Linked DNA regions of Homo sapiens: region 2 is linked to region 1. A link means that fine-mapping ties the variant in region 1 to the expression of a gene that starts in the linked region. Tissue or cell type: whole blood. Region 1 holds a variant in brackets; the other region holds the start of a gene. All regions are shown on one strand. Distances are from middle to middle. Region 1 overlaps NOL9 (nucleolar protein 9). Region 2 holds the start of PLEKHG5 (pleckstrin homology and RhoGEF domain containing G5).

Evidence for each region. PIP is the estimated chance that this variant, and not a neighbour inherited with it, causes the effect. A credible set is the group of variants that fine-mapping cannot tell apart.
Region 2: it holds the start of PLEKHG5, and the variant in region 1 is the best candidate, but not a certain one, in a credible set for the expression of PLEKHG5 in whole blood (INTERVAL, PIP 0.88).

Annotation. Positions count from the first base shown.
Region 1 is chr1:6,517,724-6,522,099 of GRCh38, reverse strand. It overlaps NOL9 (nucleolar protein 9), which reads left to right. Exons shown (of 12, transcript NM_024654.5): 12 at 1-753. It also overlaps a transcript of PLEKHG5 not described here. Among named protein-coding and RNA genes, the nearest start is that of PLEKHG5, 28 kb to the right of the region's middle. RefSeq lists an enhancer at 1,517-1,811 and silencers at 1,877-2,171, 2,625-2,825. The variant G/A (reference allele first, on the strand shown) is at 1,731.
Region 2 is chr1:6,489,001-6,493,376 of GRCh38, reverse strand. It overlaps PLEKHG5 (pleckstrin homology and RhoGEF domain containing G5), which reads left to right and starts at 1,710. Exons shown (of 21, transcript NM_020631.6): 1 at 1,710-1,740. RefSeq lists silencers at 2,420-2,499, 2,560-2,649, 3,060-3,419.

The DNA of each region.
Region 1 (4,376 bases):
TGCTGGGATTACAGGCGTGAGCCACCGCGCCCGGCCTAGGTCATTTGTTTTTGGGTTTGGATGGCAAGATCATGGATAAGACAGCAGGCTTTGATTATAGAGCTCTGAGTTCAAATCCTGGCTCTACCACTTGTCAGTGGTGTAACTTGGAGGAAGATGCTTAGCCTGAGCCTGTTTTATGTTTTGAAGATTGGGTAATTGTCCTTCCTTCAGTGTTCCTGGGTGAGGAGTAAGTGAAGTCATGTCTATAAGAGATGTAGCACAGTCTCCGGCATGTAGAAACGGTCAGTAACTCCTAGTGTGTAGCTAGCCTCTGATGAGATGGTAAACTCAGGAGGCTGGCACCACGGCTGTGCTACTCACGGTCATGCTGGAGGGATGCAGAAACTAAATGAATCCACAGCTACTTACTCATCTTGCCTCTGGCAGGTTCACCTTAAAATTGTTGCTACCAAGCTTCCTGTGGTCAAAGAGCCCTTGAGGAAGCAAGCTCCACGGCCACCATAGATAACCCATTCCTGAAAGTTTTTCATAAACCCCCACTTGTTGCTTTTAAAATTTTATAAGCAGCTTACACATGTAGAAAATGATCCTCCAGCCCACCACCACATAGTAATCACTGACACTGTGAGGTGTCTCAGCTGGGGTTCTGCTGTGTGTGTGTGTATTTTACAAAATATGTATGGTTTCTGTTCAGCTCTTTTCAGTTAACAGATGAACTTTTGTATCATTAAATATTTTTGAAAACATGAATTTAGTTGTGTAATTTTATGTAGATAGGTCATTTTATTCCAGGTAATCACTTAAATGCTTAGAAGAAACTATAGTGAAAAAACACTGGGAGGAAAAAAAATGTTGAAAGGCGGTTAATGAAGTGTGGAGACTCCAGCAAATGCTTGTGATGTGTTTGTTTGTTTGTTTTGTTGTGCCCTTTTTTTTCTTTTTGAGACAGAGTCTCTTTTGCCCAGGCTGGAGTGCGATGGTGCAATCTCGGCTCACTGCAATTTCCACCTCCCAGATTCAAGCAATTCTCCTGCCTCAGCTTCCCCAGTAGCTGGGACGACAGGCAGGCACCACCACACCCAGCTCACTTTTGTATTTTTACTAGAGAGGGGGTTTCACCATATTGGCCAGGCTGGTCTTAAACTGACCTCAGGTGTTCCACCCGCCTCGGCCTCCCAAAGTGCTGGGATTACAGGCATGAGCCACTGTGCCTGGCCTGTTTTGTTGTTGTTGTTTTTAACCATTGAAGTATTGAGTGCAGTGGGAGTTTATTTTTTCAGTATTTTTAATTTTTATTTGTCACTGACTTGAAGCTCAAGTGGGAGTTTAATTTTCCTGTCTTGGTTCATATGTAAGTAAAGAGGGGATGTTGCATTCTTTCTGGACTGTCTTTGGGAGTGTATTAGAAGGAAACAGGGCTTTGCTCCTGGAAGAGTTCAAGTTTTAAAAAACTAAAATGACTCATGCCTGTAATCCCAGCACCTTGGAAGGCTGAGGCAGGAGGATCACTTGAGGCCAAGAGTTTGAGATCAGCCTGGTCAACATAGTGAGACACCATCTACTTAAAAGAAAAACAAAAAAAAAACTGAAACAAACCCCCACCTAGTGCTGTGCCGATAAAACTGCCTCTCGGCAGCGAGGACTCAGCCCTTGTCTTCCCACACCTCATAGGGTTGGGCCTAGCAGAGAGAGATTGGCTGACAAGCCCAGCCTGAACAGTGGCTAAA[G/A]TAAATATGGGGGCCATCTATGCAGTAAGTGGGGAAGCCTACGTGATGTTCAGGGCCTTTTCAGAAAGACCTTGCTAAGTTAAGTATTCCCAAGGCTTTGCCAGGAAGAGCGGTAGCCGCCGAGTTGGGGGCAGCAGGTCCAGTCTGCAGTGCCAGGAGCTGAGCAAGCAAAGTCTTGCGAATCAGCAGAGTTCAGCTGGGCAGACATGTGCTGGGCTGGGAAGCCAAGGGTAGCTATGGTAACCGGCCCTGAGGCGGCTGCGGTGCTCTGCAGACTGGCTTGGGTTTTTCTAATGTTTTGAGGCTCACTTGATCTCCCGCTGTGACCAGCCCCTCTCTGCCTGGCAGGGGAAAGCCACCAAACTAAGGCCTTCCTGGTAGCCAAGGAGCCCAGCAGAGGGGCTGCTGCTGGCTGCTGGGATTGCAGAGGCCGGGGTCTCTGTGGTGTTGCTTTCCTGGAAAGGAGGGACGGCACCTCCAGGGCAGCCAGCAGTGTGGGAGCCCATTCCAGGGCGCAAATGGGCACTCAGGAATGGAAAATCCAAGAAGGAACCAACCACCAACAAGGAAATGCAGTGTGAGCGGCGGCTGCGAAGTCTGTGCCTTCAAATATACAGCGCCCAGGGGACCTGTGTTGGACGGGGAGCAAATTGGCAGGGCTGAGAGCGCCTTGGTTTTCTGTGCAGACAGGTCCAGCTGCAGAAATTAAGACTGGGGCTGAGTCGGGGAGAAGCCTTCCATGTTGAGATGGCAACTGGGCAAAGCAGGACGGAGACCTGTGTGTCTGATTAGAGAGGCCTGTGGCATTGGCATGTGGCTGGAGGTCCAGGCAGGGTGCCACCACCGCAGAGGTCAAGCATGAATTCAGTCCTGACAAAACATGGGTCTCCACCTCGAAGCTGGCTCAGCCTTTGTTCAGGAACCGGTGAGTATGTTTTCTATCTCTTTTGTCTAGAAAGGAGGTTTGAGGACACAGAGTGAAAGGAGGGGCTTTGCAGGTCTTGGAGGGCTCCAAGGACTCACACTCACTGAATTAGTCCGGACGGTTTAAGAGCCACTTGCAGGCTGGATCCATTTGGTCTCATTCTTCCATTAATCAGTGAGTTAAGCCCTCCAAGCCCTGCAGTTTGAGCCATCAGCTCTGATTTGAGGGCAGAGGAGGGGGACTTGCTGCTCAGCCATCTAACTCCTGACAGAAGAAAGACCTAGACTCCATATGCCGAAGGGTTGCTGGGCGCAGTGGCTCACGCCTGTAATCCCAGCACTTTGGGAGGCCGAGGCAGGCGGATCACAAGGTTAGGAGATCGAGACCATCCTGGTTAACACGGTGAAACCCCGTCTCTACTAAAAATACAAAAAATTAGCTGGGCGTGGTGGCACGCACCTGTAGTCCCAGCTCTCGGGAGGCTAAGGCAGGAGAATGGCGTGAACCCGGGAAGCGGAGCTTGCAGTGAGCAGAAATCGTGCCACTGCAGTCCAGCCTGGGCAACAGAGCAAGACTCCGTCTCAAACAAAAACAAAAACATATGCCAAAGGGTTGCTCTGGTGGCAGGTTGGCTTTGCTGCTGTGGCTCTCGTGTTAGAGGAGGGTTACCTGTTTCCTCCTCTGTGACATAGAAAGTGGGGCAAGAAAGATGCCCCAAGGCCCTTCAGACTGTCCCATTTTGTGCCTTCAAGTTGCACGCCCCTGGCAAGGATGGTCTGGAACCGTTCCCAACCTTGTCTTTGTAGCTCTCGGGAAGGGCCAGGAAATTCCTCCTGCACATCCATATTTTCTTTTCTTTTTTCTTTTTCTTTTTTTTTTTTTTTTGGGATGGAGTTTCACTTTTGTTGCCCAGGCTGGAGTGCAATGGTGCGATATGGCTCACCACAAGCTCCGCCTCCTGGGTTCAAGTGATTCTCCTGCCTCAGCCTCCCGAGTAGCTGGGATTACAGGCATGCGCCATCAAGCCCGGCTCATTTTGTGGTTTTAGTAGAGACGGGGTTTCTCCATGTTGGTTGGGCTGGTCTTGAACTCCCAACCTCAGGTGATCTGCCTGCCTCGGCCTCCCAAAGTGCTGGGATTACAGGCGTGAGCCACCGCGTCTGGCCCTGCACATCCATATTTTCAAGTTTACTTTTAATATCCGCCATGACACGGCCGGGCGCAGTGGCTCACACCTGTAATCCCAGCACTTTGGGAGGCTGAGGCGGGCGGATCACAAGGTCAGGAGATCAAGACCATCCTGGCTAACATGGTGAAACCCCGTCTCTACTAAAAATACAAAAAATCAGCTGGGCGTGGTGGCAGGCGCCTGTAGTCCCAGCTACTCGGGAGGCTGAGGCAGGAGAATGGTGTGAACCTGGGAGGCGGAGCTTGCAGTGAGCCAAGATGGAGCCACTGCACTCCAGCCTGGGCGACAGAGCGAGACTCTGTCTCAAAAAAATATATGTATATATATATCCGCCATGACGCATTTTGGGAGTCGGGGGTCAGGAATAGCGTTCATGAAATCCAGTAACATTCTCCTACCCGAGTTGGAGCCTGGTCTGGGAAACATCCCGGCCCCAGCGGGATAGCCTGGCCTGGCCTGGCCTCGGGGCATTTGGGCCATGGACCCTTCTGTTTGTCGTCAGATCTGAGCCTGTTCCAACCTTTATCTCTGT
Region 2 (4,376 bases), 29 kb after region 1:
TTTATTCATTTACCAGACCAGCTCTGAGCATCTGTCGGTGCCAGGCCCAGTTCTAGGCCCAGGAGATCTCCAGAGAACAAAGGGGATGCCCTCCTGGAGGTGACATTCTAGCTGTGCTGGGAGGAAGGAAGGGAAGTGACCCTGGCTGGCCAAACTTCCCCCCAGGCTGCCCTGGCAAAGGACCAATTTCAGGCAGGGCTGGACCCTTCGGCTTCTGGGCCCACCCTTGATGTTTTATTTGAGGCTCTCCTGGGTGCTGGAGCTTCTGAGATGAATTTGCCATCTGTCCCCTACCTCCTGCCCCTGGAGTTCCCACTGGGAGGAGGGCTAACCAGGATGGGCTTCCTGGAGGCAACTGGAGTCCTGAGGATTAAAGAGGTACTGAGATGGAGGACAGCTGAGTGAGCAGGGGGGGACATTGGGGGCTATAAGGGGCAAGCGAGGCCAGGGGGCACAGGGAGAAGGGGACGGGAGGAGGGGGAGGCAGGCTGCACTAGGAGCACCTGCATGTCCAGATGAGGGGTCTGGACTGTGTGTCATGGAGACCCCAGGAGAGAAATGGCCCCTCCCCAGGATGAAGATATGTAGAGCAGTCCACACCTCTGAGCTCCAGGATCAAACCTACTTTTTTCCAGCTGTGCGACCCTGGGGAAGTCACTACACTTCTCTGAACCCCAGGTTCCTCATCTGGAAAATAACCCGGCAGCGAGGATTAAAAGAGGCCCATATATAACATGCTTAGCATAGAGCCTAGCACAGCGTAGGTGTGCAAGGTGTCCTGGGAGTGGGGGTAACAAAGTCACCTCTAGACTTTGGGTGTGCCCTCCGTACCTGCCCTGGGATCTGAGACCTCCCCAGGCTCCATCCCAGCTTCTTGCACACAGGTGGAGCTGTGAGTTTGGGGAGATGGAGAAAGGCCGGGAGATCAAGGCAGACTAATGATATTGTGGGTTCCCCCTGCCCTCCTGTGAGGTGGCCACGGGACAGTGTGTGGACTCCCCAGCTCCTTGCTGGGCTCCACTGGGCACTGTTCGAGGTCTAGTCAGGGCGTCCCAGGTCACAAGGGGGCATGGAGGAGGACACTTGTGGCCCTGGGCCACAGGGGACATTGGGCACCACATGTGAGGGTGTTTATCATGGAGGAGGTAGTGATTCCAGCAGCCGCCATTGATCCAGCACGTACTGTATGCCAGGCCCTGCCTTAGCGCCTGGCACAGAAACCTCATCTGGCCGCCTCCCCCGCTGCGGTGGGGCCTACCCCATCTCCGTTTCCTAGAGAGGGCCCTGCAGAGTGGCGAGGTAAAATGACTTGCCAAGCAAGGCAAGATCAGGACTCAAACCAGGCCTCTCTGTCAGAGCCTCCCATTTCCTCAGAACTCTCAGGAGGAAAGGGAGGTGAATTTTTCTGCACAGCTCCCAAAGGCCTTGACAGGGAGGTGGGGTTCAGCACACTACAGGAAAGAGTTTCCAGCAGCTGGAGCTATCCCCGAAGTGGAGGTAGTGAGCACCCCATCACTAGACATATGCAAGAAGAGACAGAAAGGGAAGCGTAGAGGGGATTGCAGTGTGGAGTGGAGGTTGGATGGGAGGACTTCAGAGTTCCCTTGCAGCTTAACAATGGCCTGTGAGGTGGCAGGGATGAGTCAGGGTATGCGTGTGTGGAGGGAGGGGTGGTGAGATGAAGACCAGGGAGAGGAAAGGGTGGACCTGAGGCCCCCATGGAGAAGGGACGGGCAGGATGTGAGTAATGGGAGAGGCAATCACCTATTCTCCTGGGCAATGCTTTGGGGGTGAGCAGCGGCAGACCAGGATGCCCCAGGGAATGGCCAGGTTTGGGCCATCTCTGGAAGTGACTGGTCCCCGGAGAGAGGTGGTGGGGCTATCTGCAGCTGAAGAAACGGGCAGGGCCAGAGAAACAATGCAAGGGGACTCCTGGGTTTTGGCTAAGTAGTTTTGGGGGAGCAGGTGAAGACGTGGGGATCCCTGGCCCAGCCAGGAGCTGCCCTAGTATAGGCCCAGCCCCAAGGGTTGTGTGGGGCAGTCTGGAGGTTTTGGCCTGGGAAGGGGTCGGGGGAAGGCTGTATAAAAAGCTTGAAAGTGCGGAACAGGTTGGTGGACCTGAACTCCACCTCCTCGAGTGGGCCCCCTGTATCCACACCCTTCCCAGTCCTGAGCCCAGAGTTATTCTAAACTCCCGCTGCTGGGAGAGGGGAACTGGGAACCACTAAATGGCAGAACAGCACCCTTTTCCGGCCATATCACCTGGGCCAGAAAAAAAAAAAAGAGGGGGCCCAGAGAAAAGCGGGCTGTTTCTGGGGCACCGCGGAGGCCGCAGATCAGAATCCAGCTTTTTACAATAGAGCGGAAGCGAACCTGGCTCAGGGCGATTCCGGGGCGGGCTAGGCCTGCGGGTCTCTCTGCCTGGTCCCCCGGGGCTTTTCTGTCGCGCGGAGGCTTCCTGTCGCGGGCCCTGGTCCCCCCTAGCCCCCTTCCGGGATGGGCGAGCTCCCGTCTTCAAGCCCAAGTTAATGACCAGGGACTTTGAACTTTTTGGAGATCTGCAAAGGGCTGGCCCCTCGGGGACAGTGACGCCCCCCACCCCCTCCCCTGAGCCCGGATCCTGGATTACCCCAAGCCACCGCCCGGCCTCCAGCCACCTCCCTGGCTCCGGCGCGGGGCCCTTCCTGGGACCCCTCCTCTCCCCGGTCCCAGCCGGGCGGCGCCGTTGGTACATCCCGGCCGGTCCAGGTGGTAGCGCCCGCGCGGCTACCGTAATTCCCCTACGTCCCGCGCCCCAGTTTGCGCTGAGTCGACTGAGCCCGTCCCGCGGCTCCCGTCCCCCTCTCCCCGCGCGCCCCATGAGGCTTTGGCAGTCTCGGCCCGAGCCTTAGAGCCTTAGACACCGGGGAGGAGACCCTGGTCCTGTTCCTAGGTGAGTCGCGGGGAAGTGGGAGCTGCGCTCCGGACGGGGGGTGGGACTAGGCGCCAGGACCCCCCTAAACCGATGGACAGAACCCGGATTCGAGATTCCCACGTAGTGCCAGGCCTGTGGGTGGGTACAGGGTCCTCACCAGCTGTATCTCCATTTACGTGAGGGTGGAATGGGTTCAAGCTCCCGCCCCCATCACAGTGTCTCTAGGGTGGGTCGGCTCGGAGATAGGGCCGTGAGGAGTCTATGGGACCCTGGCCCCGGTATGGGGGGTATTGGCGGGGCAGGGGGATCCTGGAGGGGCCCGGGCGCGCGGCGTGGCTGGGAGGCTCAGCCGATCCTCCCCATCTGGCCAGTCCCGGAGTCGGTCCCAGGCGGAAAAGCCCTCTCGAGGCCGGCAGGGGGCGCCAGAGGCTGCGCCTCGGGCAGTCTGAGCAGACCCAGGCACCCACTTAGGGGTGGGGGATGCGGGAGACCCGTGAATCCGGGGAGGCCCTGGCCTGCCTTGGTGGAAGTCTGGGAAATGGAGGCCAAGAGGTCCCCTGCAGATTCCTTAGTAACTCCTCAAGTTGAGGGAGCTCGGGGGTATTTTACCATTCTCCTGCCCTTTAGCCGGGGTCCGGGCACACACTAGGACCTGGCAGCCATCCCCAGATACTGAATTCTATGCCCTCTTGGCACAGGTGGGCAAATTGAGGCCCAGTAGGGGAAGGGTGGGGGAACGTAGGCTCCAGACCAGGTCTTCTGAAGCCCAGGCAGGTGCCCTCTTTCCCCCGCTCCCTACCAAGGAGGCTTCTAAGTTGCACCGGGGAAGGGCTTGCTAGTCCAGGTGCTCCGAAGACACACGCTGGGGTCTGGGGCTGGGAACTGCAGAGGCTGGGCAGGAGGGGATGTTCACAGACTGCAGCCCCTCCCTCTTTCTCTAGCACTGGGTCCCAGCCTTGGGCATACTAGCCAGGACCGCTCCCTGGGGAGGAAGGGGCCTTCCTGGCTTCCAGGGCCCGTGCGGTGGGCTTAGCCTGGGGAGAGGTTTTCTGTGTCCCTGCCATCTGCCCGGCACAGGGCAGGGCCTTAGGTCAGGCTCTGACTCCAGGTGAGCCTCAGAACCCAAGGGGTGATGGGTGAGGCCTGGGCCTAGGGGAAAGGAGGGTGGGTAGGCCGGGTGGAGCGTAGAGAGCCGCCTGGCAAAGCCACCCCGCCCTGGCTGGCCTGCCCATGCATGCAGTCTCCACCCCTGGATTTCTAAGGTGTTGGGTGGGGCCTTGGGACTAGCAGGCTCCCAGGGGAGCTTAGCCTTGGTGGGAATTCCTGGCAAGGACATCCCTCCAGCCAGAGAGCTCGGACTCCTGGTTCCAGGCCCGTCTGCTGTCGGCAGAGCCTGGAGCTGGCCCCAGACCTGCGTCCTTTCCTGGACAGGGAAGTCCCTCTCCCACCCAGACCAGGCTGG